7 linked regions of the Homo sapiens genome follow. The protein of the gene in region 1 purifies or fractionates together with the protein of each later gene. This does not show direct contact. Each region holds a gene or a part of one and is shown in the gene's direction. Other genes may lie near its edges. The genes, in order: DCAF13, NAT10, FIP1L1, MTF1, AP1S2, DDX21 and E2F2.

The links.
Region 2: the proteins of DCAF13 (region 1) and NAT10 purify together in Homo sapiens (affinity purification with mass spectrometry, with the first as the bait; one large-scale study listed by BioGRID). This does not show direct contact.
Region 3: the proteins of DCAF13 (region 1) and FIP1L1 purify together in Homo sapiens (affinity purification with mass spectrometry, with the first as the bait; one large-scale study listed by BioGRID). This does not show direct contact.
Region 4: the proteins of DCAF13 (region 1) and MTF1 purify together in Homo sapiens (affinity purification with mass spectrometry, with the first as the bait; one large-scale study listed by BioGRID). This does not show direct contact.
Region 5: the proteins of DCAF13 (region 1) and AP1S2 purify together in Homo sapiens (affinity purification with mass spectrometry, with the first as the bait; one large-scale study listed by BioGRID). This does not show direct contact.
Region 6: the proteins of DCAF13 (region 1) and DDX21 purify together in Homo sapiens (affinity purification with mass spectrometry, with the first as the bait; one large-scale study listed by BioGRID). This does not show direct contact.
Region 7: the proteins of DCAF13 (region 1) and E2F2 purify together in Homo sapiens (affinity purification with mass spectrometry, with the first as the bait; one large-scale study listed by BioGRID). This does not show direct contact.

The regions. Positions count from the first base shown.
Region 1 is NC_000008.11:103,417,966-103,422,547, forward strand, and holds part of DCAF13 (DDB1- and CUL4-associated factor 13), read left to right. Parts: intron 1-2,298; coding exon 2,299-2,498; intron 2,499-3,009; coding exon 3,010-3,117; intron 3,118-4,582. UniProt on the Homo sapiens protein: Part of the small subunit (SSU) processome, first precursor of the small eukaryotic ribosomal subunit.
Region 2 is NC_000011.10:34,107,966-34,112,547, forward strand, and holds part of NAT10 (RNA cytidine acetyltransferase), read left to right. Parts: intron 1-245; 5' UTR 246-260; coding exon 261-368; intron 369-776; coding exon 777-868; intron 869-4,086; coding exon 4,087-4,258; intron 4,259-4,582. UniProt on the Homo sapiens protein: RNA cytidine acetyltransferase that catalyzes the formation of N(4)-acetylcytidine (ac4C) modification on mRNAs, 18S rRNA and tRNAs.
Region 3 is NC_000004.12:53,422,177-53,426,758, forward strand, and holds part of FIP1L1 (pre-mRNA 3'-end-processing factor FIP1), read left to right. Parts: intron 1-3,695; coding exon 3,696-3,789; intron 3,790-4,582.
Region 4 is NC_000001.11:37,849,077-37,853,658, reverse strand, and holds part of MTF1 (metal regulatory transcription factor 1), read left to right. Parts: intron 1-4,582. UniProt on the Homo sapiens protein: Zinc-dependent transcriptional regulator of cellular adaption to conditions of exposure to heavy metals. Binds to metal responsive elements (MRE) in promoters and activates the transcription of metallothionein genes like metallothionein-2/MT2A.
Region 5 is NC_000023.11:15,824,805-15,828,640, reverse strand, and holds the end of AP1S2 (AP-1 complex subunit sigma-2), read left to right. Parts: intron 1-440; coding exon 441-449; intron 450-1,268; coding exon 1,269-1,316; 3' UTR 1,317-2,835; downstream 2,836-3,836. UniProt on the Homo sapiens protein: Subunit of clathrin-associated adaptor protein complex 1 that plays a role in protein sorting in the late-Golgi/trans-Golgi network (TGN) and/or endosomes.
Region 6 is NC_000010.11:68,973,170-68,976,669, forward strand, and holds part of DDX21 (nucleolar RNA helicase 2), read left to right. Parts: intron 1-375; coding exon 376-495; intron 496-1,500; coding exon 1,501-1,574; intron 1,575-3,500.
Region 7 is NC_000001.11:23,510,208-23,514,789, reverse strand, and holds part of E2F2 (transcription factor E2F2), read left to right. Parts: intron 1-4,582. UniProt on the Homo sapiens protein: Transcription activator that binds DNA cooperatively with DP proteins through the E2 recognition site, 5'-TTTC[CG]CGC-3' found in the promoter region of a number of genes whose products are involved in cell cycle regulation or in DNA replication.

The DNA.
Region 1 (4,582 bases):
AAAAATAAATAAATTAGCCGGGCATGGTGGCGGGTGCCTGTAGTCCCAGCTACTCGGGAGGCTGAGGCAGGAGAATGGTGTGAACCCGGGAGGTGGAGCTTGCAGTGAGCCGAGATTGCGCCACTGCACTCCAGCCTGGGCAACAGAGCAAGACTCCGTCTCAAAAAAAAAAGAAAAAAAAAGACATCTGATAATAGTGTAAATTGCCGCCAAATCAAGTAGGGATGATATTAAAGTAGCCCAAGTATAAGATAATGAAGACCCAAACTGCCTGGGAATGCAGTGGCTCACATTCATAAACCCAACACTTTGGGCGGCAAAGGTGGGAGGATCTCTTGAGCCCAGGAGTTCGAGAGTAGCCTGGGCATCATAAGGAGACCCCCGTCTCTACAAAAAATTTAAAGATTAATGGGGCATGGTGGTGCATGCCTCAGGTCCAAGCTACTTGGGAGGCTGAGGTGAGAGGCTAAGGTGGGAGGATCACTTAAGCCCTGGAGGTTGAGGCTGCAGTAGGCTATAGTCATATCACTGCATTCCAGCTTGGGTGACAGAATGATACCGCATCTCAAAACAAAAACAAAAACAAAACACAAAAAACTAGAAATAGAGAGTTGAAAGATGAGTAAGTGTTGCAAAGAGATGATGAGTAGGACTTTGAGTTTTGGTAGTAGGGAATATGGAAGATGGAATACATAAGAATGACCTAGGCTAGAGCTTTGTTGAATGTTAGATATAACACCATTACCAGGGAGTCAGAAAGAAACAGCAGGATGAAGTCATGGGGTAAGAAGATGCATTTACTTTTTACTCACTGAGTTTTTTTAGACATACGAGCTTAAAATTACTTTCTAAGCATAATTATATATATATATATATATATATATATATATATATATATATATTTTTTTTTTTTTTTTTTTTTTTTTTTTTTTTTTTGAGATGAAGTCACACTCTGTCAGCCAGGCTGGAGTGCAGTGGCGCGATCTCGGCTCACTGCAACCTCCACCTCCCAGGTTCAAGTGATTCTTTTGCCTCAGCCTCCTGAGTAGCTGGGACTGCAGGCACATACCACCCCCACCGCTGGCTAACTTTTTGTATTTTTAGTAGATGGGATTTCACTGTGGTAGCCAGGATGGTCTCGATCTCCTGACCTCGTGATCCGTCCGTCCCGGCCCCCCAAAGTGCTGGGATTACAGGCGTGAGCCACCACGCCCGGCCCTAAGCGTGATTATTAACCAAGACAATGTGTTTAGCAGCGTATCAGGACAGTTAAAACATAGATTCTGGAGCCATACTGCCTTGGTTTGAATCCTGGCTCCACCGTGTCGTATTCGAGTTACTTAACCTCTTTATGCCTCAGTTTTCCCATCAATAAAGTGTGAGATAGTAATAGAACTTAACACATAGGATGCTGTGGAGATTAAACGGTTAAGGTTTTTGGAACAGCGCCTGGCACTTGAACTCTTATGTGAGTCTTTTTTAAGTAAGTAAACAAACATAGAAAGTGCTCAGTAAATGATAGCTATATAATATCATCATAATCACAACTTCGTGTGTCTATCAGCACAGTATTTAGCACCAGAGATTAATAATGTTCCCTGCCCTACAGGAAGCTTAGAGTTCTGTTGAGCAAACATCTTGCACATATTTTGTCCCAGAAACTGTGCTAGGCATAAGGAAGTACAAATGAAAAGTGTATTGGAAGCCCTGACAGTGAACACTTACAACCCAGTTGAAGAGGGTACTAGGACATATAAAAGGGAGGCCGGGCACGGTGGCTCATGCCTGTAATCCCAGCACTTTGGGAGGCTGAGGCGTGTGGATCACGAGGTCACGAGATCGAGACCAGCCTGACCAATATGGTGAAACCCCATCTCTACTAAAAATAGAAAAATTAGCTGGGCGTGGTGGCATGCGCCTGTAATCCCAGCTACTCGGGTGGCTGAGGCAGGAGAATTGCTTGAACCTGAGAAGCGGAGGTTGCAGTGAGCCGAGATTGCGCCACTGCACTCCAGCCTGGTGACGGAGCAAGACTCCGTCTCAAAAAAAAAAAAAAAAGGAAATGCTGCATGTATATATACCTAGGGTCTAATTGTTTTGCAAGATGTATGCATCCCATGATTTTCCAGTAATTTCAGAAAGATTTCTGAACAACAGGTCTTCTACTTTTGTATTCTTAGTGTTAGGCATAGAACAATGTCACTAACTAAATGCTTATTGAATAACAGAGTGATTAGCTGAGGAAGACTGCAGGAAATATTAAGTGTGAATTATTAAGAAGGATCATTCTTATTTCAGTTCCAAGAAACTATGATCCTGCTTTACATCCTTTTGAGGTCCCACGAGAATATATAAGAGCTTTAAATGCTACCAAACTGGAACGAGTATTTGCAAAACCATTCCTTGCTTCGCTGGATGGTCACCGTGATGGAGTCAATTGCTTGGCAAAGCATCCAGAGAAGCTGGCTACTGTCCTTTCTGGGGCGTGTGATGGAGAGGCAAGTGTCAATCTAGATGATATTTTCAACTAAAAGTAGTTATATTACAAATGTTTTCCCTTTAGTTTTTAGTTACTGTAGGTTTTACTTTATTGGATTTCAATTTACTTCTCAAGACTAAATTTCGTTAGGAATACTGTTTAGTATTTTCTTCTTTAAACCTAAGAAATTATAAATGCAGTAGTTTAAGGATCAATTTGACAGTAAATTAAATAATCATGTTTATAATTAAAGTATTTAAGTATGAGTTTTTTCACAGATGTTGTCAACACCTAATTTCCTACTATGGCAAGTGAAAAAGTTTTGTAACACTTTAGAATCAACAGAGTATTTGTCAGGTTGTATTTTTTGCTCATCAGTATACTTATCCATATGCATTGCATTGTTTTAATCCAAAGGATTTTGGTTTTAGCTGCCCAGTAGAGTGATTCGTAGCCTTGTCAGTGTTGAATTTATCCTGAACATTTTACATTTATAGTTCACTGAAATTTCCTGGTATGCCTTATCATAGGTTAGAATTTGGAATCTAACTCAGCGGAATTGTATCCGTACAATACAAGCACATGAAGGCTTTGTACGAGGAATATGTACTCGCTTTTGTGGGACTTCTTTTTTCACTGTAAGTATAATACCATTAAGTCATTAAATTTGATCAACATAGGTAAGAATAATCTAATTGAATACATTTTTTTTCAAGTTCATTTATTTGTTCCTAGGCCCTTTTGGAGTTTCACAATGCAAAATAGCTTATTAAACCTTGAAAATTACTAGTTTTCTTTATATAATTCAGCCTTCCCCATAACTTAACATGATTAAACTAATATTCAATTTACCACAAAAGTGGAATTAATGAGAGGTAAGTCTAGAAAGAGTTTGGCTTACTCTGGAGGATTTTTGATGCTAAGATGAGTAATTTGTACTTTTGTTAGTCAGATAATAAGGAATCATCGAAGTTTTGTGCCTGTGTGTGGCAAGATATCCGGAACGTAAAATTTACTCTCTGTTTTTAAATATACAGTTTGGTGGCATCCAGTACATTCACATCACTGTGCAACCATCACCACCATCTGTCTTCAGAACTTTTTCATCATCCCCAGCTGAAACTATAGTCATTAAACAATAACTCCTCTGTCCCCTCAGTCCCCAACCCCTGGTAACTACTATTTTACTTTTTGCCTCTGTGATTTTGACTATTCTGGGTACCTCATATAAATAGAAGCATATTTTAAAGAATTATACCATTTTGTGTATGTGGAATAAGGCTTTTGGGTCTGGCTTATTTTACTTAACATAATTGTCTTCAAGGTTTATCCATGTTGTAGTACATGTCAGAATTTCCTTTCTTTTTATGGCTAAATAACATTCCATTGTATGTGTCACATTTTGTTTATCCGTTCATTCATCAATGAGCATTTGATTTGTTTCCACCTTTTGGCTATTGTGAATAGTGTTGCCGTGACCATTGGTGTACAAATACCAATTCAAGTTCATTGAAAGTCTTTTTAAACAAGGGGAACGACAAAATCTGAGCTGTGCTTTGAGTTAAGTAATTTGACAGCAGTTAGTGATCAGTTTGAAGGCCATTTTAATAGTTTGGCAGGCAATAATAAGAGGCTACCTTATTATGGAGACTGAAAACTAGAAATCAGTGGTTGATACTTTGGAGGATTGACAGGTTTGACAACTGAGAGGTGCCTGGGAAGAGGTTGGTTCCTGTTGCTGAGGAGTACCAGCAAGTTTTGAAGGGTGGCAATGGGAAGGATATGATGTGACAAACTGGACTGCTAATGGGCTGTTCGAGTGAAGATGTCTGTCATACCTTTACAGATGCAGGTCTGGAGCTCAGGAGGGAGGTCAGAGCTGAACTTGACATCATCAATATAGAACTAATCATTGAAGCCATAGTATGGCATCATTGGGAGGAAATGAGGAGGAAAATATAGAAATACAAAGATGTCAAGGAAGTAGCCTTGGGGAATGCCCACCTCTGGGAAGTGGGAAAACTCTAGGAGTAGCCAGAGCTCAAAGAATCTGTGAATGAGCATAGTGTCCTAGGAGGAAGGAATAGTCAGTTTTGTGAACTA
Region 2 (4,582 bases), on another chromosome or scaffold:
AAAATATTTAATAGAGGTGAATTACAGGCTTTCCAGGCTGAGGGAAGGTTTTCTCACCTCCCAAGCCTAAGGTTTCCTGAGTTTAAAACTAGAGGCTGATGTCTTCCTGTGGAGCTCGTAGAGGGTTAAGTAAGACAATACTTATAGATATGCCTAGCACAGTCCCAGGCCCCACAAAAGGCAGCCAGCTAATGTTCCTTAGACAATCTAGTGCGCATGGCCAGTTGTATTTCTTTCTCTTTTAGTAATAATTTTTCACCATGCATCGGAAAAAGGTGGATAACCGAATCCGGATTCTCATTGAGAATGGAGTAGCTGAGCGGCAAAGATCTCTCTTTGTTGTAGTTGGGGATCGAGGAAAAGATCAGGTATGGCCTGGTAAATGCTTCCTGAATTACTTTTTATCTTGTCCAAAGAATCAGCATGTTTAAGCACTCTGCTGTTTCAGGACATAATGGCATTAAGATCTCTTTGGCTGGTAAGATGCCTAGTGGGAACCTTTCTTTATTTCCTGGAAGTGGTGAATTCTCTGTATTTAGATTGATTCGCAGACAAGCTAATACCTTTTGAAGCCTGGGGTGGTGGGTTGACCACAAAGTGAACTGTATGTGACCTGGCTTCTAGTCCAAACCTGGTCATTGCTCGCCTTAGAACCTTGGGCACTTCCCTTCCCTGGCCCTCAGTTTAGTTTCCACATCCGTCAAATGAGGTCTTAAGCCTGGCGGTCTCTAAAGTCTCTTTTGTGCCTGAAATTCTGTGACTTTTTTGTTTGGCAGGTGGTAATACTTCATCACATGTTATCCAAAGCAACTGTGAAGGCTCGGCCTTCAGTGCTGTGGTGTTATAAGAAAGAGCTGGGGTTTAGCAGGTAAGCTGGGCTCTTCATGTGTTTTATCCAACTTACAATTCCTGCTCATTAGTTAAATGCCAGGAAATGATTCCTTCACATATTTTTTAAGGGTCTTTAGTGGAGGTGCTATCTCTGAGGACAAATGGAGCTGATATCCTTTCTTCATTCCTGAAAATAAGTTTCAAATCATTTTCATGCTTTTTAAGTCACCAATCCAATGCCTTGCCTTCTGCATATGGTTTTCCTTCCTGCTTTTCTAGGCTGATTAAGCCCATCTCATTGCAAGTTCCTTCAAACTGTCTTTCCTACCTCAAATTTATTCCACTTTTCACTCTCTCTCTTTTTCTCCCCTTCTTTCATGGAGGGGGTATATGCCTCATCCCATGTCCAAGGAAAACCCCTTTATGTACCCTGTGTCTCCTCCCTCACCTCTTTCAGGACCTGTATTGTCTTTCCTCTGCTGGCCACCCAATACCCTTTGGAAACTTTCTCCTTCCTGTAAACATGCTCAGATTTTTCTATTATCAAAAGCTGATTACTTACATACCCAGATTTCTCTCTCAGGTTAGCATTTCCCCCGATTTTTATTGCCATATACCTTAAAACAGAAATCTTTTGCACTTAGTAGCCACTTTTGCAGTCTGGTTTCTGCTTCTATAATTGTGATCAAATTGTGCAGTTAGACATCCCCAGCAGCTTGATGCCTAATGCGTCAACTTTTCTCTCTCTTTCTCCTCCTTTTCAGAGCTCTGCCTCTTCTTCTACCAGTTCACTGCTGTATTTGACAGTTGGCTATTTGAAGCTGTGGTAGTCAAGACTTTTAGTCATAGATAACATACTTTCAACACAAATACAATTTGGCACAAAGGGATTTCATTGAGGTATATGGGATATTTCCTGGAATCCAAGGGGATAAGATTTCAGCTCTGCTCACGGGTGATCTAGAGTCACAGTACTAATGCTCCCAGCTCAGTTTGTCATCTCAGTGTATCTGCTCTATGCAGACCAACTTTCTCACTGCAGACCAGCTTTCTGTTTTCTGTTGTCCCCCTAGCAGAAACAACACTTGCGTTTTCCTTGTTTCAGGCCCAGCCATGTGGAAATCAGACTTTTTCCCAAAATTCTGGTGGAAAAATGCCCACACCTGGCCAGAGGAGGGTGGGGTTGGTCATAGCATAATACAAAGTTGGAAGTTCTACCTACAACTTTGTGTTTGGAGAAGTTTGGATGGGGTGGGTAGTGCTGTTCCTTGGCAGATAACCACCATGGCATCACCTAAGAAATAGTCTCCTTTTTTGGCTTCAGTGTCTTTACTCAGACCACCTTCCGGAGCTCTTCTCTTTCTCTGGATCTCGTCTCCTTACTCTAAACCTAGCTGGCTTGTGCGATTCTGTCCTTGAGCCTCTTCTAATTTCCAAATGTGCTCATCTCCGATCTGACTCTGAAAGCCTGTCTCCAGCTCTGGTTGCTTTATGCTGTGACTAACCTCCCTCCTTTTCTTTGCTCATGCTGTCTCCTCTGCTTGGAATGCCACTTCCACCTCCCCGGTATCACCTATTGAAATCCTGTTTCTCAGGGCCTGCCTCCTCCGTGAAACTTTTCCTGAGCCCCCCAGTCATACCTGGTGGTTCCTCTACCTTCCTCTGCACTTGTCCTTCTCCTATAATGTTTGCCAATGGATGCTTTTGCTTTAGGGTAAAGTCACTTACATACTGTGACTTACGTTCATTTTTTTTTCTTTCCCTTTTTTTTTTTTTTTTTTTTTTTTTACTTTCAGGTGATAAGCTTATTTAGTTAGGAGCCCTCTTCTATTTATCTTTGTATTTTCATACTTTTAACTGATTTAGCATGTTTATCATAGGTACTCAGTATACATTGAGTTGGATGTGTTGTTAACAGGCTCTAAAATTATTTTAATTTAAATTAGTACCAGAGGCTAAACTTGCCCCTGTCCTGTGGTCTTAAAGTGAAGGGATTCTGCCTAAAGGAAACCAGACAATCATAAGAGCCTTACTGATGAAATGTGAAAAGTGCAGAAAACCCAAAGATGAAAATAAAAAACATCTCACTGTCTAGGCATTGTCAGCATCTAGGTGTATCTTACAGGGATGTAGTTTTGAACCATAATTGGTATTCTGTTGTATATACTCTCATATTTAGAGAGGTAGGCATTTTTAATACAGATTGAGAATAAGGCCTGTTGTCTATCCCAGAATTTTAAGTTTTTAGGGCTTCTGGTTTTCACTATTTTTCATTTGGCAAATATGAGATGGGTGTGGAATTAGGCAGTTCAAAGTCTTCTGGGCAGATTTGCCTTTTGAATTTAAACCACCTGGCTTCACTTCTAAAAATCTACTTTTGTACCTCTTATAGCTCTTCTGCCCCACCCCTGTCTTAGTCTGGCAGAGCATTGTGTTCAAGCTAATGCCTGTTTGTAAGTCACGGGCTTAAGGCCTGAGCCAGAAGGGACAGTGGAGACAAACTCACCCACTGCCTTGGTTCATAGATGAGGAAGTGGAGGCCCACAGGAGGAAAGGCCTTTGTTCTAGCTATTAAGTTAGAGAACTATGGTAAAATTTTGATCAGCTGTAATCCTCCATTCTAGAACATTCTAATTCTCTCTTTTGGTAAAGGAAAGGTAAGTAGCAACTGGATATGCAGGGTTTTTAAGACCAAAAAAATTCAGGAATTCCTTAGAGATGTCCAGATTCCATTCTGATCCCTGTGTCCTGTATCATTATTGTCTTATGTAAGACCTGCCCTTGAAGACATAATCCCACATTCTCGGGGAGGAAGTCCTCTAGGAAGGATGAATAAAGTAACGTGCCATCACCTTGTCTTTCCTAGGATCTCTGGGGAACAGCACAGTGTAGTTGAAGCATTGGCTTATGACTGAGATAATGAGGCCACTCAGGTTTGGTTTCAAGCTCTGGCTTTGGCCAAATGTGAGGGTTAGCTACCCTATTACCCATCTTTTAAAGCAAAGTATTTGCTCAAGGTCACAGGGCAAAATAGCAGAGTTCACACATAGACTTATCACTTACTCCAAGCCCTTAAGCACTCTAATGCCTCTCATGCCTCTCCACTGCCCTCCACCTGAAGTGGGCCTCACACTTTCAAGTTCCCTACTAGCTCTGAAAGTCTAAGTGGGTGATCACTGAGCCTTTCCCCTGGTTCCAGCTCTTTAGCTGCTCTGGTTAACTGGCTCTCATGGGATTGGGGGTGTGTGATTGCAGTCACCGGAAGAAAAGAATGCGACAGCTGCAGAAGAAAATAAAGAATGGAACACTGAACATAAAGCAGGACGACCCCTTTGAACTCTTCATAGCAGCCACAAACATTCGCTACTGCTACTACAACGAGACCCACAAGATCCTGGGCAATACCTTCGGCATGTGTGTGCTGCAGGTGGGTGGCTTCCTCTAACCTGTGATTGAAGTCAGAGTCTTGAGGGTTGCTTGGGCTGCCTGGCTTTCCACTGGGAACAGATGTACAGTAAGGAGAGGAGAGTCCCATGTTCCCTATGCCCAAGCATTATTAGTGGAAGTCCTGGCCACTTTCCAAAGTACACTCGGTCACCTACCCCATATAAAAAGAGAATTTTAAATCAGCACTTGTCTAGAGACACCAGAACTGAAGTGATGAGTTATTATAACGGGTTCTAACTAGCTAAAGCTGATAAAGCAAATGCCAGAGACTTTGAGTGCCTCTAGGACCCTAGGTCCTTATTGG
Region 3 (4,582 bases), on another chromosome or scaffold:
ATTTGGTGGTCCCAACCAGTATTTCTTGGTTTTGTATTGTTTCTTTTGCTTTTTTCCTATGCTATATTTAAATATTAATAAAATTACATTTTATCTTAGTGTCACCATTTTTCCTTTTTTAAGTATTGTTTCATGAATCTTTTTTAGTTTTTAATGTATTGTGGGTACTGGATTGCTGTGTAAAGTGTACTTCTTACTGTGTTTTGTAGTCAATAAAGTTTAAAAACTATTGTACTCATATTTTCTCTTAGACTCAGAGGAGAATCTTTTTCTGTTTATTCTCATTTGTAAAATGACAATAATGAGAGTTGCTACCTTATGGGTTTATCATGAAGACTAAATATATATAAAGTATTTAGAACAGTGCTTACCTTGCGCATAGTAGGTGCTCCATAAATACTAGCTGTCATTACCAGGAAAACAATCTTAGAGCAAATGCTTTGTTTTAATCTTAATGCACATTAAAGACATTTGTTGTTAATGATGTCCTTTGCTTTGGCTTCCAAGAAAAAGCAGCTGAGATATATATATATGTATATATATATATTTTTTTTTTGAGACAGGCTCTTGTTTTGTTGCCCAGTCTGGAGTGCAGTGGCACAATCACAGTTTACTGCATCCTTCATCTCCTGGACTCAAGCAATCCTCTCACCTAAGCCCTCTGAATAGCTGGGACCACAAGCATGTGCTACTATGCCTAGCTGATATTTTAAATTATTTGTAGACACAAAGTCTCGCCATGTTGCCCAGGCTGGTCTTGAATTCCTGGGCTTAAGTAATCCTCCCGCCTCAGGCTCCCAAAGTGTTGGCATTACATGCGTGAGCCTGACCTTCAGAGATCAATTTATGGCCTTTTGTCTATCTTCTATTAGCCCTGATTTGTCATCTTAAACTTTCTGTTGCATCTCTGCAGGGAGCCCTCAGATTCTTTCTGGGATATCAGAATCATCAAAATATGATAATTTAATTCCATTGTAACTTCAGAGATATTTTTATATTCATTTACTGTGCCAGGAGGGGAGGTAGAGGCTCTTGGGAACATTTACTGCCTGTTTAAACTGTACATTAACTCAGACACCCAGAGTGGTTAGTTTCTTAGCTTTTTACTAGATGGTTGAGTCCAATATGGAGAAGAGGATTTTGATAATAGCATTAGCTGTCTACCTTACTGAACAAGTTTGTTGGCCTAATCAAACCTACGCTTTGGGGAACTCTTAAGTTACAGTAGATTTCCTCATAGGGAAACTCTATTAAATCTTCTTAAGCAATGAAAGAAAAAGCTGTCCATTAAGAACTTTCGTGGAATAATATGGTTCAATATTTTTTTCCATAATGTGGCATCAGAATAATATTAGATTTTTAAATTATTTGTCAGTGTTAGATATTATGTGCTTTTTGTTGCTGTGGTACATACTGTGTGTCTTATCATAAAACATTTTGGAACAAAACGGTAAGCTTAATTTATATGATTAAAGTAAATCAGTTTATGTGGTTAAAAAATACGGGCACAAGGAGATGTTTTGAAAATGTGGAGAATTGTAATTTTCTGAACTCCCTTTAGGGATATATACTTGTTAAGGCTGATTTCTCAGTTATATGTTTTTAGAAACATAGTATTTGCCATTTTGAATCTTTAGTGATTAAAAACAATCAATTTAAAGTTGAAAAAAACTAATTAGACTTCTGACCATATTTAAGGTACATTTTAAGAGGTGAATACTTCCATGTGTCCCAGACTTTTTGAAAACTAGAGATCCTCAGAAATAAATGGTAAAAGACAGGCTATAGAAAATTTTCCCCTCAACAGGAAAGTTATATCTAGATCTAATTTTTACCACTTTTAACAATTTGGAGAATTTGCTATCTGACTTGCAAGTCCAAACAAATTTGGTAGAATTTGTTCTTGATGGGAATAAATTTAAAAATGCAAAGGAGAGAGTCCAGTGATTGGCAAGAGAAAATAGTAGAAAAGGAAATAGAGCGAAAATAAAAATTTTGACAATGGAGGGCAGCAATTAACAGAGAGGAAATTACAGCCTCAGAATGCACACCTGTATTTAGTAGGATGTTGGAATATGAAATGTTTGTATATCAGAGGGCTGATGGCATGTGCTTTGATAATGCAGTCATGGTAGGCATAGCTTTGCAATTTAAATTATAGGGAAGAAATGGAAGCAATATTTGTTTTATTGTAGAGATATTTGGATTTTTGTAACATGTGAATATTAAGATCTTTCCCCAGCTGTATTGGAGGATATGTTAATCCTCCAATGAAATCATTCATGATCTTTGGGATCATGAGGAAATCTAGGAAGTCAGTGACTCAGGCATAAAATTAGAAAGGCTTGAACATTTTTAAATTGTACTAAAGTTATAGAGAAGGGAAGTCTTAAGTGGGCAAGGGATGGTAAGTGGGAACTGACTATGTACTTGAAAACATTTCAGATGTCATGATGTGCTTTTTATAGGGCTGTCTTTGTTAGCACAAAATAATTTGTGGAGTGTTTCAAGGTCTACTTGAGATAAACTCTTACTAACTCATGATTTCCAGAAAAGCCTTAAATTCCTCAAAGGTCTTGCTGGAAGGAAACCTAGCTCAAGGGGAGGGGAGGTCTATAGTCTTTGGGATTAGAAAGACTCAGGTTTGAAAGTTAGTTTTGCTATTTAATTCATGCTTGTGTCAGTGATTTCACTTTGGACCATGGCTTGTCTCTAACAAGTATACAGTAATTTTTCAGTTTTTGTGAAGTTTAGATATAATGGGTTTGGCATCCAACCTATGGTAGCTGCTGTTATTTGTCATTTTAGGAGCCTAATCTAGTGACTGTGGAAGGATCTATGGTATTTTAATTGTTTTGCTTCTATAAAGTTTTAAAGGCAGTATTGTTCAGAACTGAAATATAGATGAAGAGAAATTCATCTAATTTGCATCCACTTTTCATTGCCTATTTCTCCAAGTGACTTCTATATCATCTTAGGCATGCATACTTTTGTAAAGTCCTTTATCTGCATAATAGCTTTTAACATTATTTTATTTAAAATACAACTTACTAGGTTTTTCTCTTAAATTTATAGCATTGTTTTATGATAGACTATTTTTCCATATCCTTATAAACTTTAAAAAGATTGTAGAGGTGAGGCGGGTATTTAAATATTTGAATTTTTCTATCTAAATGCAAGTTATCAGAAATGGCAAACTGGTTCCTTTTTTATGTTTTTTAACACTTGGAATATATCACAAGGAAAATATCTTGTGTATGTTAAAATGAGCATTATTTTCAGGCCTTTTTGGGGAATATTTAAAGTTTCTGTAATAGAGCTGTAGTATGTGTTACAATTGTAGTGGTCCCAAAATTTCCATTTGTCTAGCATTTGCTGTCTTATTTAATTTCACAAAGATAAATTTATTTGGAGACTACTAAAACTAGTAAGTGTAGAAGAGCTCTACAGAGACTTAAAACTTAACATTATGATCATTGTTGGGTATGTTGGTTCTAGCTTGTTTATTAATAAAAATTTTTATGACAATGCAAAGTAGTGAGCTTAAACTCAGGGATATTTTTCAATGTGTATTGTGATCTGGTTTTATTTTAAAATTTATTGCAAACACATTTTGTTTTTATTTCTCACTGCTTTTATTATTTTTTAAGCATCTAATTAGGTGAAACTGAATTGATTCAATTTTTATGTTACAGGAGATTACCTGGGGCAATTGATGTTATCGGTCAGACTATAACTATCAGCCGAGTAGAAGGCAGGCGACGGGCAAATGAGAACAGCAACATACAGGTTTAGTATTTTAAAATAAATAATTTTCTTTAACTGAAGGATGATATCAACATTATAATTTAATTTATTCAATAGATAGTCATAGTGCTATGCTGTGTTTTAGGTGATACAAAGAGATTTAAAATGTGAAGCCAGTCATTTATTATAAAGGCATTTCCAGTTAGAATTTATAATCTCTGAATCTTTTTTTAATAGGGTTTTCTTTCTTTTCCTTGGTAGAAACATAGTACAGGTTGAGTATCTCTTATCTGAAATGCTTGGGACCAGAAGTGTATCAGATTTTGAAATGTTTGGATTTTGAAATGTTCATACGTATGTAATCTTAGAGATGAGACCCAAGTCTAAACATGAAATTTATGTTTCATAAATAAGTTATTTAATTTGTTATAATGATTTGTTAATTTATGATAATCTTTTTTCCTTTGGCAACCCTGAGTAAACTGTGTAGTGGGCCTGAGTTTTGATTGTGATCCGTCACATGTGAGGTTGGGTGTGGAATTTTCCACTTGTGATAAAATGTTGATGCTCAAAATGTTTCGGATTTTAGAGCATTTCAGATTTCAGATTTTTGGATTAGGAATACTCAACTTGTATATAGGTTTACTGAATGAAAAATAAAAGACCACCAGTGATTTTACCACCTAAAGATAACCACATCTGGTACATCTCTTGATACTAAGCAAAATTGGGATACTATTATAATTATATTTCTGTGTATACTTTTTTCCCCATCTAAAATTATCATTTGTATGTTTTCATATTCTTAAAATATGATTAAAATATCTTCATGATA
Region 4 (4,582 bases), on another chromosome or scaffold:
TTTTCCAAGAGAGAGGAACAGCATGAAACAAGGAATGCAGGTGGGAAACAGGCCATTTTCAGGGAATAGCCAGTTGTCCTGTTACAACAGAGTCAGCACACTTTTTTCTGCTTAGGGCTAAATAGTAAATATTCTGGGCTTTGCAGGCTATAAGGTCTCTGTTGGAGCTACTCCATTCTTCCATTGTAGCACAAAAGCAGCCATAGACAATACATAAAGAATGAACATGGCCAAGTTCTGATAAGACTTTACAAAAACAGGCAGTGGGGTGGATTTGGTTCACTGGCTGTAGTGTGCTGACCCTTAGACTAGAACATAGTAGTAGAAGGAGATAAGGATGGAAAGATAGCAAAGATCCAAACATGGAAGGCAGTGGTAACCTTCTATGGGTTTTGAACTGTACTCTCCTAGAAATGGTGGGAAACCATTGGAGGTGTCTAAGCCAAGGCTAGAGTGGTTAGATAGAGAATGTGGTTAGAGTAGCATTTTAGAAGGATTGGTCTGGCAGCAGAGGTAGCTTGGAGGCAGAGGAAAACTGGAGACTTCTTGCCTAGTTAGGAGACAGTTGTAGTTTATGTTTGGGGTTTCATTTAAATCTGAAGAAAGGATAGTGGCCTTGTTCATGGGAAGAATCAAGGACTTTTGTAGAAGTACGAGAGAACTTCGTACGTGTTATTGGAGTTTGATGAATGAGCCATGAGTTGGGCATGATTCAAAGGTTTTGAATAGGCCAGGCACAGTGGCTCATGCCTGTAATCCCAGCACTTTCGGAGGCAGAGGCAGGTGGATCAGTTGAGGTCTGGAGCTCTAGACCAGCCTGGCCAACATGGTGAAACCCTGTCTCTACTAAAAATACAAAAATTAGCCGGTTGTGGTGGTGCATGCCTGTAGTCCCAGCCACTTGGGAGGCTGAGGCAGGAGAATCACTTGAACCCAGAGGGCGGAGGGTGCAGTGAGCCATGATTGTGCCACTGCATTCCAGCCTGGGCAACAAAATGAGAATCTGGTTGGAAAAAAAAAAAAGGTTTTGAATCATGTTGATTGAAAGGATTCATCCATTTTCCCAAATTTGTTGAGTTTCTGCTGTGTCTTAGCACAGCTTTTTGATGGAGCTCAAATCTAGGTGAAGAGTTAAGCAGTTAAGAGTCCGTTGTGGTAGATATTTTAACAGAGGTGTATTCGAAGTGCTGTGTGCATGCTGAGGAGAAAGTGGCTAACTCTGCTCTCCGCACCCTCCAAATGGTGATCCCATTCATAGGAATCAAGAAAGATGGGAAAAGGAAAAAGTTTTGATGGGGTAATTAAAGAGTTTGGTAGGAGTGTATTGAATGTATAGTCCTTGGAGAAAAGTAACATGAACAAATGGAAAGCTCATTGGAAACGTGTATCTGAGGTCAAAGAAATGGTTTGGAGTTAGAATAGTAGTAGAAAGGGGCCTTCAAACTGTGGGTAGTTTACTTAAGGGAGAAGTAAGAGTTGGCCTGAGAATTTAAGGGTTGGAAAGAGAAAGAGGAACCCAAGAAGATCACAGTAGTCAAAGAGATGGGTCGACTGCAGTGTTGTGGAAGCTGAAGGAAGAGAGTGTCAACAAATGAGAATATTCCTGTGTGACCCTGCAGAGGGATTGAGGAGCCCCGAAGAAGCCTTTAGTTGTGCTGGTTGTGCAGTTGTTCACATATCATGAGAAGACTTGCAGCAGAGCACTGGGGCTGAAGCCAGGTTTTGAGTGATGAAGAAGTGAGTGAGTGATGAGGAAACAGGAGGCAGGAAATGTCAAGTTGGCTTTTTTTTTTTTTTTTAAATAAGTTTGGTAGTTAGAGGAAGAAGAGTGATGAGGCAGTAGTAGCTAGCTCAAGGAGATTGAATCATTTTTGTTTAGCATAGGTAATTTGGACATAGTTTAGGACCTAAACTTTAGGCCATCCTCCATCAGTGATTACTGTGTGAAAGTGTTTCATGAGCGAATGTTCGGGAAACATTAAGTTAAACCAAGACAGAAATTTGTTGATTAGGACTTCTCAGAGCCTTTGATGTGCCAACAGCTAAGAAGGAAGAAAACACAGAATTTTTCAAATGCTTTAAACTTGAGAAACCATTTTTCAGATCTAATTTCCAGGGATCAGTGTTTTGTGGAACACATTTTGGGAAATGCTGATCTAGGCAGAAGAGGAGGAGATGGTACAGAGGGAATGATTATGCAATCAGTGAAAAGCTGTCACTTTTCCACTTTGTACTATTCAAATTGGTTTATTCTATTTGCAAGTCTGGTTTGCCATTCTTGTCTTCAGATCATTGATAATCATATTGAATAGCACAGGGTCAAGGATATTATGAGCACTTTGTTCAGTTTGCTGGGGATTTAGCTCACTCCACTTTCCTCTCACCCACATTTTTCCATGCTATCCATGAGACCTTTGTGGAAGATGCTATATTCTTGAAATCAGTAGGTTTGGGGTTGGGTGGAGATTGAAGGAGAAGTAGCAGTAGCTTTAGTCTTCGAAAATCTTGCTTAATGACCAGACATTCAGGAGGCTTGCCTTCCTGAAGCACTGTCTTAGCTTAGCTTTTGTTTTGGCAGTGATTTTATTTTGGCATTAAAATCCACTTATTTGGCCTGAAGAGGCTGATGTTTATGACTACTCGATAACAGACTTCATGATCCTTTAGCTCTTCCTTACTCCTTTTCCTTTCGTTTTTTTTCAGCTTGGTTTTTGGTTTTTTCTTTTCCCTCCATGCACAGGTGTTACTCTTGAGAAATCAAATCATTTGATAACTAGTTGGTCTTCTTGGCTTCCCAAGCAGCTTATTTTCTGAGTCACATTTTAGCCTGAATTTCCTGTTTACTCCTGGTTTTTTCATTGTTTCATATAGTGTGGAGTTGGCTTACCTATTACTTCATTTTCTTTTCTTCATGCTTGTCTTGCGCAAAAAATAAACCAACCAGAACCTTGCCACAGATAGTCTTTTCCTACCACAAGGCCGCTGGTCATTCTGACTCGAATTTCACGTATCTTATTCTCATACTTGTTATTTCATTACTGTCTCCCTACTGATTTGGTAGCTTTGAGATCTCTCTCTCTCTCTCTCTCTCTTTCTCTCTCCCTTTTTTTTCTCTTTCTCTCTCTCATTCCCTTCCTCCCTCCCTTCCTTCCTTCTTTTCCCTTTCTGTCTTTCTTCTTTCCTTTCTCTCTTGAAACAGGGTCTCACTGTGTCACACAGGTTGGAGTGATTACAGTGGTGGGATCGTAGCTCACTGTAACCTCAAACTCCTGGGCTCAAGCAATCCTCCTGCCTCGACCTCCCAAAGTGCTGGGATTATAGGCATGAGCCATGGCACTTGGCCAGCTTGCAAAATTTCTAATCAAAATATTTTCATTCTGCCTAAAAACAAAAGCTTTTTTTTTTTTTTTTTTTTTTTGGTTGAGACAGGGTTCCATTCTGTAGCCAGGCTGGAGTACAGTGGCACGATCATGGCTCACTGCAGCCTTAACCTCCCAGGCTCAAGCCGTCCTGCCACCTCAGCCTCCACAGTAGCTGGGACCACAGGCATGTGCTACTGTGCCGGCTACTTTTTGGTGGTTGTTTTGGTAGAGAGGGGTCTCACTATGGGCTGGTTCCAAAATCCTGGGCTCACGCAATCCTTCCACCTTGGCCTCCCAAAGTATTGTGATTACCGGCATGAGCCACCATGTCTGGCCCTTTAAGGCCTTTCTACTCCAAGTCTCGAAGCAGCTGCGTCTTGTTGTTTGTTTGTTTGTTTACGTATTTTATTTTATTTTTTTAAGACACTGGGTCTTGCTATGTTTGCCCAGGCCATCATCATAGCTCACTGTAACCTGGAACTTCTGGCCTCAACCAATTCTCCCTCCTTAGCCTCCTGAGCTGCTGGGATTAAAGGCATGAGCTACCACACCTGGCAACTGTGTTTTCTTTAGTTGGTTTGTGCAGTCCATTCTTGAATCTGTGCCCTTCCATAGAACCTGCCAGGACGGTCTAGTTACCTGTTCATCTACCTCTGTCTGCACTACATTGGTGACGTGATGTATCCTCCATGGCTAACTGACCTTGCCAGTTTTCTATAGAGTAGTTGGCCAAGGAGCATGAAAAAACCCTAGGAATCGTATGCAAAATTTATTCTACATGATGCACCAAAGTATTCCAGCACATTGATTAGGAAAGGTATCATTTTCTACCAACAAGCACAGTTACAGCAATTTTTTTTTTTTTTTAATTGAGGTGAAGGCTTGCTCTGTTGCCCAGGCTGGAGTACAGTGGCACGATCTTGGCTCACTGCAACCTCCGCCTCCAGGGTTCAAGAGATTCTCCTGTCTCAGCCTCCCGAGTAGCCAGGATTACAGGCATGTGCCACTAGGCCTGGCTAAATTTTGTATTTTTAGTAGAGATGGGGTTTCACCATATTGGTCAGGCTGGTCTTGAACTCCTGACCTCAGGTGATCCACCCGCCTTGGCCTCCCACAGTGCTGGGATTACAGGTGTGAGCTGCTGCGCCTGGCCTACAGCAATGTTTTTAGGCTGCTTGGTATATTGCTTCTAGACACACCATGAACTAATTGCATGGCCA
Region 5 (3,836 bases), on another chromosome or scaffold:
CAATTTGAGGGGGCAAGAATACTTCATAGGTTAGACTCTTTTTAAAAAAATACCTTTTTTCGCTAAAGCTGATTTTTACCCATTTTTATTACTATGCAGACATACTAAAAGGTCATCATATGAGCTTTATAAGTAGAATTGGTGTATAGTACTTGCGTTTAATAATAAATGCTAAATCATTTCGATTTCAATTGTGTAACTATATCACCTAACATTTTTGAAGCACTTTCTATAAATTAGGCAGAGCCTTAATTCACTTAATCTCAACATATGAAGGTAAGTACTATTATCCATGTTTTCCAAATAAGGAAACAGACCATAGAGTTTAAGTAATTTACTTAAGATTACACCATGAAGTGCTTTACATGCAATTAATATTCTAAAGATTTATGGTTTAATATAATTTCTCTTCTCCTTGCTTTGTGCTGTACCATGATTAGGATGCGAAAGTAAGTTTATTACTGGATGCCAAAAATTTATATTATTTTCCATCATTAAAATATAGTGTTGCCTTTTAATTACAAAATTCGTTGCTAGTAATACCTGAAAGTTGGCCTCCTTGGTCCTTTATTTTGTGATTTGCAAAATCAGCCACTTTGGAAAATTATTAAATAATTTTTTCCTGGATATGCTTACTTTGTTTTGACCTCCTTTGACACTTAAAAACCAGTGCTGGTTGCTACATAGAATAAAAATGCCTTTGGCCCATGGCATTCTTTGCATATGTGGCCTCTAGTGATGCCATTGGTTGCACTGGGGAGGTCTGGGAAGATAGCTGTTTCTGAAGACTTGCCGCTGTGGACACAGTTAACTAAAAACTCCAAGAGGAAGACATTTCTATAAATGCATGTGACAAAAAGCATGGAACACAACAGTAGGCGAAGAACTGTGGGAACTCGGAGGGAAGAGGTTTTGAATTTTACCACTAAGATAACTTATCTTTCATATATATAATTGAGTAGCAGTGATTTCATAAATTGCCAGCAGGTTTGCACTGGGCTTGACTGCTTTTTGCATGACAGCAACGGCATCTAGCACATTGGTAGGTAATTAGCAGGTACTTAATGAATGCTGAAAACGTCCTTTTGTGGTCTCCAATTTTGAGGGCACAAAACCCTAAATAACCAATGGCTGTCAACTAGAATGCTACTGTGACACGAAATTGCTTTCTTGATTCTCTAAAACAAGCATGTTCTTCCATGTCAATGTTTCACATTCTCAAGACTCCCTGGATCTGCTTACCAGAGTCTCACATTTTCCCTCCACAGGAAGCTGAAACCCCACGTAGTGTTCTTGAAGAAATTGGACTGACATAACTCTCCTCCCTTGTTGATGACTTCTTGTGGCATTTCACACACTGTAGATGGTCACTCCCTTCATGTCCATGTTAGCTCATGGTGTAAGATGATGTCTTGTCAGTATTACTGTTTTGCTAAGCCGCTTCATTCATGCCTACACAATTTTTTTTTAAAAGGGAACTTTAGTTAATTAAGTGATAAGGGACTTAAATATGAATTAGAATGGTGCAGAAAGAGATACCTTTTCTGGATATTTTAAAGTTTAAAGGTCAGTTTCTCTTAATCTGATTATGTGCACATATGAAAATGGCACATCATATACATGTAAAATCAGGCAGTATACATTTATTAATTACTGTATTTGACAAAGGAAACTCTTAAATTATAATGTGAAACCTGGTTTTATGAAACCAAAGACTAGTGCAGCATTTCAGCATATGTAAAAAAAAAAAAAAAGGGAATTGACATGTCACATATCAAATGAATGGAAACTTTGTTGAAACTTTAAAAAGCAAATTTACTCCAAAGACTTGTATTGGAAATTACATACCTTTTTTTTTTTTTTTTAAAGGACTACAGATTATTTTTAATGACTAAATTGGAGTGATACTTCTTACACTAAAAATTATTTCTTAGGCATTCTGAATCTGGGATGAGAAACAGGATTGTTTCACAATAGTAAGCACATAATTTTTAAGGCCAAGGCACATTTGACTCCTGAGATGAATTTTTTGTGGTCATAATCAAATACTTAGTTGTTTTTGATGCCCCAAAATAAAGTGAGAATGGTAATTTGCCAGGAATTCTTCATAACAGTATCTTACAAAAAACGTGTTGCTCTCTTCACAGTATTATGTGTAAAGTCATTGTTTAAAGCACGAATGTTCCCTCTGGGGTACTTGTTAAAGCTAAATTTATTTTGCTTCCCTCCACTTAGAAGTGCTGCACACTTTACAGCAGCTTCCTTTCTTTCCATGGCACTGCCTAGTTAACAGAAGTCTTATAAAAATTTAAAAAGACACATTTCTTACAAAAAAGAGTTGAATGAGGTAAAATGGCATTAGATGGCTCTATATTTTTTAAAGCTATGTAATTGTTCAGCGTCACTTTTCTAAGTACTTATACATATCTAAACATGTCTTCATGGTTTATATTTTCACTTATATATGCTGGGCTGGATTAAGCTTTGTTGTGATTGTGACCAACATTCAGGCCACGTGAGCACTGTCTTATCACATCGCCAATTAGTTGTAATAAACGTTCAACGTACAAACACTGGAGTGTGTTTTTATCTCTTTCCAAAAGTTTGTCAAACTATGCAGAGCTGCTGAAGGAAGAATTTCTCATTTTTTTTTCAGTAAAATGTTGAAAATTCCCCTCCATTTGAATATGGTGGTTGTTATAAGCACACACAAGATACATGGTGGAAGATCTAAGGAGTCTTCATGTACTTCATTAAAAAATAACATGGATTCCATACTGAGAGCCTATCTACACATTTATTTTCAATCAATAAATGCTGCTTTTAAAACCTTGATGCAGTTGACTTTTCTACTCTTTCTGAATGAACAACTTAGACTGTTACTCAAAAGGTATTTCAAATCAACTGGATTCCTCTTACCCCCTTGTGAACTGAAGGTGCTAGCACATGCAACAGAAAGGGACTAATACTTGCAGACTGTACTACCTAACCTATGCAACAAATCAAATCTATGGTAATCATGATAGTTAAGGGACCTCCTATTACTACAGATAGGAAATGTTACATTCTAAAACTGGGCTATTTAAGAAGGAGGCAGGAACTACCATCAAATTAAGTTGCTAGTCTACTGGAAAAAAAGACGTTTATAGGTTTAAAAAGCCTCCAACATGCAGCTAGCTATTCACTGAAAACAGGCCTGTGGGTTTCTGCTAGCAATGTATAGTTGGAATTTTTGAAACATAAATAGTAATCAGGCAATATATATTAAAAAAAACTAATAAATTTAAGTTCAAGATGGACATTTATCAGGATAATGAACCAGTCAGTGGTTTAAAAACTTCCTGCCCTTCTACCCTGCCTATTAACATTTGAGGGGAAAGTCATCAATATCTCAGTTGTCCTGAGCTCAAGATGGTGGTTTTCTTTCTTAGCCTCCATGATTTATTAAGATTTCAGCTTTGCAGACCACATTTAATTGCATATATCTTGACTGTATTTAGAAAAGTATTAAAAAATACTGAATTTAATGATAATTACTCGGCGTTACTGAAATCAGTAGATAGTTCTAGGTCAATCATTTTCAGGGTGAAGCAGGCATTTAGAGTCTGGAACAAATCCAACTTTTTAAAGTGAAATTATCCTGGGCCACATGCATGATTTCTTTTATTGACTACACATGAAAGAACTCTCATCCTTAACAGATATCATGCAGAAATTCCAATTTTGAGGAAACTTTCTTCCTACTTAAATTTCGTTAACGTTTCAGTATTTTACGTATGTTTTAAGTCCTTATTCCCAAATCTCAAATTGAAAAATGTCACATACTCCAAAATTCT
Region 6 (3,500 bases), on another chromosome or scaffold:
GAGTGACAGAGTGAGACTCTGTCTCAAAAGAAAAAAAAAAGACTAGATATATTGAGTTAAAATACATTAAGCTTCTTAAAGAAATCTTTTCAGTCTGTCTACTGGAAGACTGAAAATTGGAATTACATATATGCCTCTAATGGACAAGCACTATTTAGACAATGCTCTTTGTAAATTTGCCTGCAGGACAGGGACCATTGTTCTAGAAGCTTTAAAAATTGCCAGAGGTCTTTAAATTGAAGTGCTAAGGGACCTTCTCCCTCATGTCCCCAGGTTTATAACCACAATTGCTAGTGTTCACTGACCTGCATAGGCTACTCAGGTGTTTGTCTCTCTTTTTTGGTTTAGTGTTACTCATGTATTTTACTTCAATAGGATGTAGAGTCCTACATTCATCGATCCGGGCGGACAGGCAGAGCTGGAAGGACGGGGGTGTGCATCTGCTTTTATCAGCACAAGGAAGAATATCAGTTAGTACAAGTGGAGCAAAAAGCGGTAAAACTATTCTTACCTTTCATTAAGCAAATGTTGAGTTCTAAAGTCAGTCTTTGGTTTCTTCAATTTTTATCCACTTTAAAATATTTTTATTTCTAGTGTGTGGCAATGACTGAAAGCTTATTGTTAGGTACATATGTTGTCCTGTGATAAAAGGCCCATTCTGAAGTAACTTTGCATTTGAAAACAGTGATTTTGTTTTCATATGTTTGAAAGGAAGTTTTCAGACAATGATAAATATGAACCAGAGATAATTAAGATTGAGGGGCTGTAGGAATTGCTTGAAAATCAAATGAATGAGGGTATGTCAAAAGGATAAAGGGGAGAAGAGACTAATTTTTCCTCCAGGAGAATTGGAATAGTGTATGTAGATTCTTGCCCCTTCAGGAGCTTCACTCGTCTCCTTCCTCTTGAGTGGACTGCACTTAGGGACTTGCTTTCAAAGAATAGAGTAAGGTGGGGAGTGAGGACTTTACCGAGGAGAGATGAACAAACACTACCTGGGCCAGTTGATCGTGGGTCACATCATTAGTGATAGGCACATAGCCATGTGCCCCTGATAAGAGGTGGTAAGGCGAGCATTCACTTCGGGTATTCCTCCCCCAAATATGTAACCCTGAGCATGAGGAAAACACAAGACAACCTCAAACTGAGGGACATTCTACAAAACTGTTGACCAGCACTCCTTAAAACTGTCAAAGTCATGAAAAACAAGGAAAGAAGGAAAGACAGACATGGAATAAAGTCTGGGGTTTGATTAATAGTTTAGCCATGTTGGTTTCTTAGTTGAAACAAATATACATTAACAGTGTAAGATGTTAATAATAGCAGAAACCTGGAGCTCTCTGTACTGTCTTTGTAGCTTTTCTGTAAGTCTAAAATTAAAAGTTCATTTTTTAATGTAATACATACATTTGGCCTATATTAAAAAATTAGGGGACTGCTTATCTTATTGGAAACAATTGATGGCCACTGTACATTAAACTGTGGTTCATTTTCCTGTAGGGAATTAAGTTCAAACGAATAGGTGTTCCTTCTGCAACAGAAATAATAAAAGCTTCCAGCAAAGATGCCATCAGGTATGTTCCCTACCACTGCTATGGTCTGTTTTAGTGTTGGTTCAAATACTGCATGTCTTTGTACAGTAATAAGATTTGACTTAAAAAAATTTTTTTTTTAAAATTTTTGAGACAGGGTCTCACTATGTTGCCCAGGCTGGTCTCAACTCCTGGTCTCAAGCAGTCCTCCCAGCTCAGCCTCCCAAAGTGCTAAGATTACAGGTGTGAGCCAGCATGCACAGCCTATTCTTTTTAACTGATAACCTGTTTATCAAAAAAAAACCAGACCGTGCTGAAGTAGAATTTCACAAAGTGGATACCCTCGTTTCTACTCATTCCTGTCCTATCCTGTTTACCAGAGGAAACCACTATTAAAATAGTTTGCTTTGTCTAGGATATTTTAAGGGATAATATCTTAGGTATAGTATAGGTGCTTCTCACCCACTGGCTGATTAGACCACAGATTACATTCCAAATCTACATTAATCCAGTTCCTTCCCTGGTAGGATGAAAGTTGATTGCTTCGTTAATAGTAAATGTCTAGATGGTGAGGATTAGGTTAATTAACAGTTTGTCAAATGGAGGTGCTGCTGGCATTGGAGGCAAGAGAATTATTTTTTATGGGATTGTCCTGCAAATGGAAGGATATTTAGCTGCTTAGGATCCGTGGCTGATTCCCCTGTGCCACATACTCAGGGTAAGTAGGGTTGGCATTATAAAAACCAGAAACCATTTTCCAGATGCCTCCTGATGGTGACCTATGTTCTCTGTTAAAGAACCACTGAGTTTGGGCATCATTTTTATAGTAGTTTTCACAATTACTGTAAATGCTTATTTAAAAAACAGACACAGGGAGTCCATGATCAAAGGAAATCCTGGATGTCAATCAGCATATTAATAGTTCAGGAAAGTTTTGTTAATGAAAGAGTTTTGGGCCAGGCATGGTGGCTCATGCCTGTAATCCCAGCACTTTGGGAGGCTGGGGTAGGCGGATTGCCTGGGCAACACGGTGAAACTCCATCTCTATAAAAAATACAAAAATTAGGCCGGGTGCGGTGGCTCACACCTGTAATCCCAGCACTTTGGGAGGCCAAGGCGGGTGGATTACCTGAGGTCAGGAGTTCAAGACCAGCTGGCTAACATGGAAAAAACCCATTTCTACTAAAAATACAAAAAAATAGCCAGGCGTGGTTGCGCACGCCTATAATCCCAGGTACTTGGGAGGCTGAGGCAGGAGAATCACTTGAACCCGAGAGGTGGAGGTTGCAGTGGGCCGAGATCACACCATTGCACCCCAGCTAGGACAACAAGAGCAAAACTCTGTCTCAAAAAAAAAAAAAAAATACAAAAATACAAAAATTAGATGTGGTAGCAAGTGCCTGTAGTCCCAGCTACTCTGGAGGCTGAGATGGGAGGATTGCATGAGCCCAGGAGGTTGAGGCTGCAGTGAGCTGTGGTTGTGCTAATGTACTCCACCCTGGGTGGCAGAGTGAGACTATCTCAAAAAAAAGAAAGAGGGAAGGAAGGAAGAAAGAAGACAGGGAAGGGAGGAAAGGAAGGATGAGTGTATTTTTTTTTTTTTTGAGACAGAGTCTTGCTCTGTTGCCCAGGCTGGAGTGGAGTGGTGCAATCTCATCTCACTGCAAGCTCTGCCTCCCTGGTTCACGCCATTCTCCTGCCTCAGCCTTCCGAGTAGCTGGGACTACAGGCACCTGCCACCACGCCCAGCTAATTTTTTGTATTTTTAGTAGAGACGGGGTTTCACCGTGTTAGCCAGGATGGTCTCAATCTCCTGACCTCATGATCCGCCCGCCTTGGCCTCCCAAAGTGCTGGGATTATAGGCGTGAGCCACCACACCCAGCCTGGAAGAGTGTATTTTAACTGCATTTTTCAAATTTATTTTAGCATGGCATGTTTTTTTAAGTGTCCTACAGACAGGGTTCCCT
Region 7 (4,582 bases), on another chromosome or scaffold:
TCTTGGCTCACAGCAACCTCTGCCTCCTGGGTTCAATCAATTCTCCTGCCTCAGCCTCCCAAGTAGCTGGGATTACAGGTGCCCGCCATCACACCCAGCTAATTTTTTTTTTTTTTGTATTTTTAGTAGAGACAGGGTTTCCCCATGTTGGCCAGCCTGGTCTTGAACCCTTGACCTCAGGTGATCCACCTGCCTTGGCTTCCCAAAGTGCTGGGATTACAGGCTCCAGCTCTTTATAGAAGTTTGCTGTCCCCAACTAACTCAACCCTTCTTTTAACACATGAATGAACACAGGCCCAGAGAGGGCAAGTGGCTTCCCTAAGGTCACACAGCAAGTTGATGGCAGAGCTGGGACCAGAGCCCAGCCTCCCAACTCTTCTCTAATGATCTCTCCTGTGTCTGTCAGGCCTCATCAGGGACCAGAGCTTCTCCCTGTGCTAGCCATCTGTCCCTTGGGACACCTCCCCAGTGCCTATCTCCCATCCCAGACCTCTGCCCCACCCTCTGGTCCATCCTCCTCCTGCTGTGCCTCCTCACTCAAGTGTCAGCATGCGCATAGCCCTCCGAAGCTGGAACCACCTTCGCTTCAGTTGTCCTCTGAGACCTTGGGTGGAGGTGGCAGATCCCAAAGCATAAACAAGGGTGTGAAGTTGTTTTTTTTTTTTTAAGACAGAGTCTCACTCTATCACCCAGGCTGGAGTGCAGTGGCACAATCTTGGCTCACTGCAACCTCCGCCTCCCAAGTTCAAGCAATTCTCCTGCCTCAGCCTCCCGAGTAGCTAGGAGTACAGGTACATGCCACCATGCCCGGCTAATTTTTGTATTTTCAGTAGAGACAGGGTTTCACCATGTTGGCCAGGCTGGTCTCGAACTCCTGATCTCAGGTGATCCACCCACCTCAGCTTCCCAAAGTGCTGGGATTACAGGTGTGAGCCACCGAGCCCAGCCGGGTGTGAAGTTTTTACCTGAGTTTTACAAATCAAGATCCTGAAGCCCAGAGAGGAGCAGAGGCTTACACAGCAGTCTGGTGGGGCCAGCTCTCATGTCATGGCTGTCCCCACGACCCTTGTCACATGGCCTCATAGTATTATCCCTGCTGAAGGGAGGAGGAGGAAGTTTTCCTGGTCTTGGCTCACTGCAACCTCCGCCTCCCAGGTTCAAGGGATTCTCCTGCACAGACACACACACACACACACACACACACACACACACACACACACACACACATGTTCCGTGCTGTGTTCTGAAATAGTATCATTTTGAGGTCTGAGTGCCAGAAGCCATGTAAGAGAGGAAGCCACTACAGTCTTGGGACCTGGGTCCTGGCCCTGGTTCTGCATTACCAGGGGAAGTGTTCTCTGCAGCCTCAGTTTCCCTCATCTGTAATGGAAGGGGTTTCAACAACATCATCTCTGACATTTCTCCAGGCTCTGACATTCTGAGATACACCTAAATGTAGCTGATGGCACAGGATTTGAAATTGGGAGACCTGTGTTCAAGCCTGTATCTCACTTCTTAGTGACTTGGTGACTGTGAGTGAATCACTTTAACCCCCCAAAGCCCCAGTTCCCACATCTCTCAAATGGGGACACTTGAAATTTCCTCATGAATATTGAATGGGTTATAGAAGATGACATGGCATAAATGTGATTTAAAAAAAAAAAAAAAAAACTTATGTGGCCAGCCGCGGTGGCACACACCTGTAATCCAGCACTTGGAGAGGCCGAGGGAGGTGGATCACTTGAGGCCAGAAGTTCCAGACCAGCCTGGCCAACACGATGAAACCCCGTCTCTACTACAAATACAAAAATTAGCCGGAGGTGGTGGTGCATGCCTATAATCCCAGTTACTCAGGAGGCTGAGGCACAATAGTCACTTGAACCAGGAAAGCAGACGTTGCAGTGAGCTGAGATTACACCACTGCACTCCAGCCTGACCGACAGAGTGGGACTCTGTCTCAAAAAAAAAAAAAAGCTTGTGTGAAGAGCATCTACTGAGCTGGGCCTGGTGCTGTTTTAGAGACAGAAAAGCAGTAAGAGCCATTCAGAGTGTGGTGGAGAGACACATATTACAAAAGGCGATTCTATTTCTGGACGTGATCAACAGCAGGAGACAGCAAGGTCTGACCTATAATAGAGATTTTCACATGTGTTTTATCAGTTACTGCTTCTAATACTCATCCCTGTTTTTCCACATGAGGAAACAGAGTTCTGGGGTTCCATGGCTGGTGAGAGGAGGCGCTAGAGTCTGAGCCCACATGCTCCCCGCTCCCAAGCCAGGCCTCTGACTGTAACATCAGCAGCGTGCCAAACAAACCTTAGATTTTTTTTTTTAATTAATATACATTTAATGGACTTCTTTGGGCCCTAGTTTTCTCATCTGTAAATAGGGGTAACAGCATGGACTCCCTCAGGGCCATTTGAGTGTGCAAGGAGGCTGAACCACGCCTCGCCTCAAGGGCAGTGCCACCACCTCCCCCATTAGCCTTGGTAAATGGGAGCAATTTTTAACAGGAGCAAGGGCAGCATGCAGACCCGACAAACCAGTGCTTATTTATTTATTTGTTTGTTTATTTATTTATTTTTATTTTGAGACACGAGTCTCGCTCTTGTTGCCCAGGCTGGAGTGCAGTGGCGTGATCTTGCCTCACTACAACCTCCACCTCCTGGGTTCCAATGATTCTCCTTCCTCAGCCTCCCTATTAACTGGGATTACAGATGCCTGCCACCATACCCAGCGAATTTCTGTATTTTTAGTAGAGACGGTGTTTCACCATGTTGGCCAGGCTGGTCTCGAACTCCTGACCTCAGGTGATCTGCCTGCCTCGCCCTCCCAAAGTGCTGGTATTATAGGCATGAGCCACCGCACCAGGCCAAACCAGTGCTTCATATGCACTTACCATGCGGTCCTCTGAGCAACCCTTTGAGGTAGGTAGTGCTATGCTGCCCCATGCAGAGGGGAGAAAATGGATGCTCTAAAACGTGAAGTCCAGAGCAAGACTCCATCTCAAAATAAATTAAATAAATAAATAAAATGTGAAATCACATGCCTATGGGTGCACCACCAGTCTCAACAGGCAGCCTAGCATCCCAGCGCAGTTGTATCTTCAGAATAATACTTGGCTGGGGCTTAAGGAGTGACTGCAATGTGGGGGATTCTGAGCATCAGGATATATGTGGCAGGCAATTTCCAGTGCTTCATTGCATGTCCCTGTATGGGAAATCACCGTCTTAACATCTAAGTGGAAATGAGCAGGTTGGGTGTGGTGGCTCATGTCTGTAATCCCAGCACTTTGGGAGGCTGAGGCAGGAGGATTGCTCGAGCCTGGGAGTTCGAGACCAGCCTGGGCAACAGAGTGAGACCCTGTCTCTACAAAAAAGTTTAAAAATTGGATGGGCATGGTGGCACGCACCAGTGGTCCCAGCTACTCAGGAGGCTGAGGCGAGAGGATTGCTTGAGCCCAGAAGGTTGAGGCTGCAGTGAGCCGTGTTCACCCTACTGCACTCTGTACTCTAGCTTGGGCAAGACCCTGTTTCAAAAAAAAAAAAAGAAGGCGGCGAGAAAGAAATGAGCATAGAGTGCTGGAGAATGGCTACTGAAAGGTCAAATAAGATGAAGCCAGAGAAATGACCATTGGGTTTAGCAGCATGGATGTCACTGGCTCAGGGACATGGTGGGGAGAGACCCCAGACTGGAGTGAGTTGAAGAGAGAATAGTAATAGGGAAGTGGAGACAAGCTGAGGCTACTCTGGAGAAAGTTTACTGTGCAAAGGAGCAGAAAAATGGGCCAGTAATTGGAGAGGGTGATGAGGTCAGGTATAGTTGTGTGTGGTGGAGAGTAGAGGCAACATAACAAAAATTTACCATCATAACTATTTTTAAATGTACAGTTCAGTGGTAATTAATACATTCATAATGTTGTGTAACCATCACCATTCATCTCCATAACTCCTTTCACCTTGTAAAACTGAAACTCTGTACCTATTCCCCATTCCCCTCTCTGCCCAGCCCCTGACAACCACCCTTCTACTCTCTGTCCCTGCGATTTTGACTAAGTATCTAATGTAAGTGGAATCACACAGTATTTGTTTTTTTGTGATTGGCTTATTTCACATAGTTTAATGTCCTCAGGGTTCATCTATGTTGTAGCATGTGTCAGAATTTCTTTCCTTTTTGGCCGGGCACAGTGGCTCAGGCCTGTAATCCCAACACTTTGGAAGGCCGATCACTTGAGGTCAGGAGTTCGAGACCAGCCTGGCCAACATGGTGAAACCCCATCTCTACTAAAAATACACAAATTAGCTGGGTGTGGTGGTGCATGCCTGTAGTCCAGCTACTCGGGAGGCTCAGGTGGGAGAATCGCTTGAACCTGGGAGGCAGAGGTTGCAGTGAACCAAGATCACAACACTGCACTCTAGCCTGGGTGATAGAGTGAGACCCGGTCTCAAAAAAATAAAAAATACATGAAAAGTTGTAGGGTTGGGTGTAGACTCTGGAAGGTGGATTTTGAGAGCACGACAGTCCACCCAGGCTAAGGAGAGAGAAGAAGGGTGCAGTCATCCAGAGAACCGGAAGTCTGTCC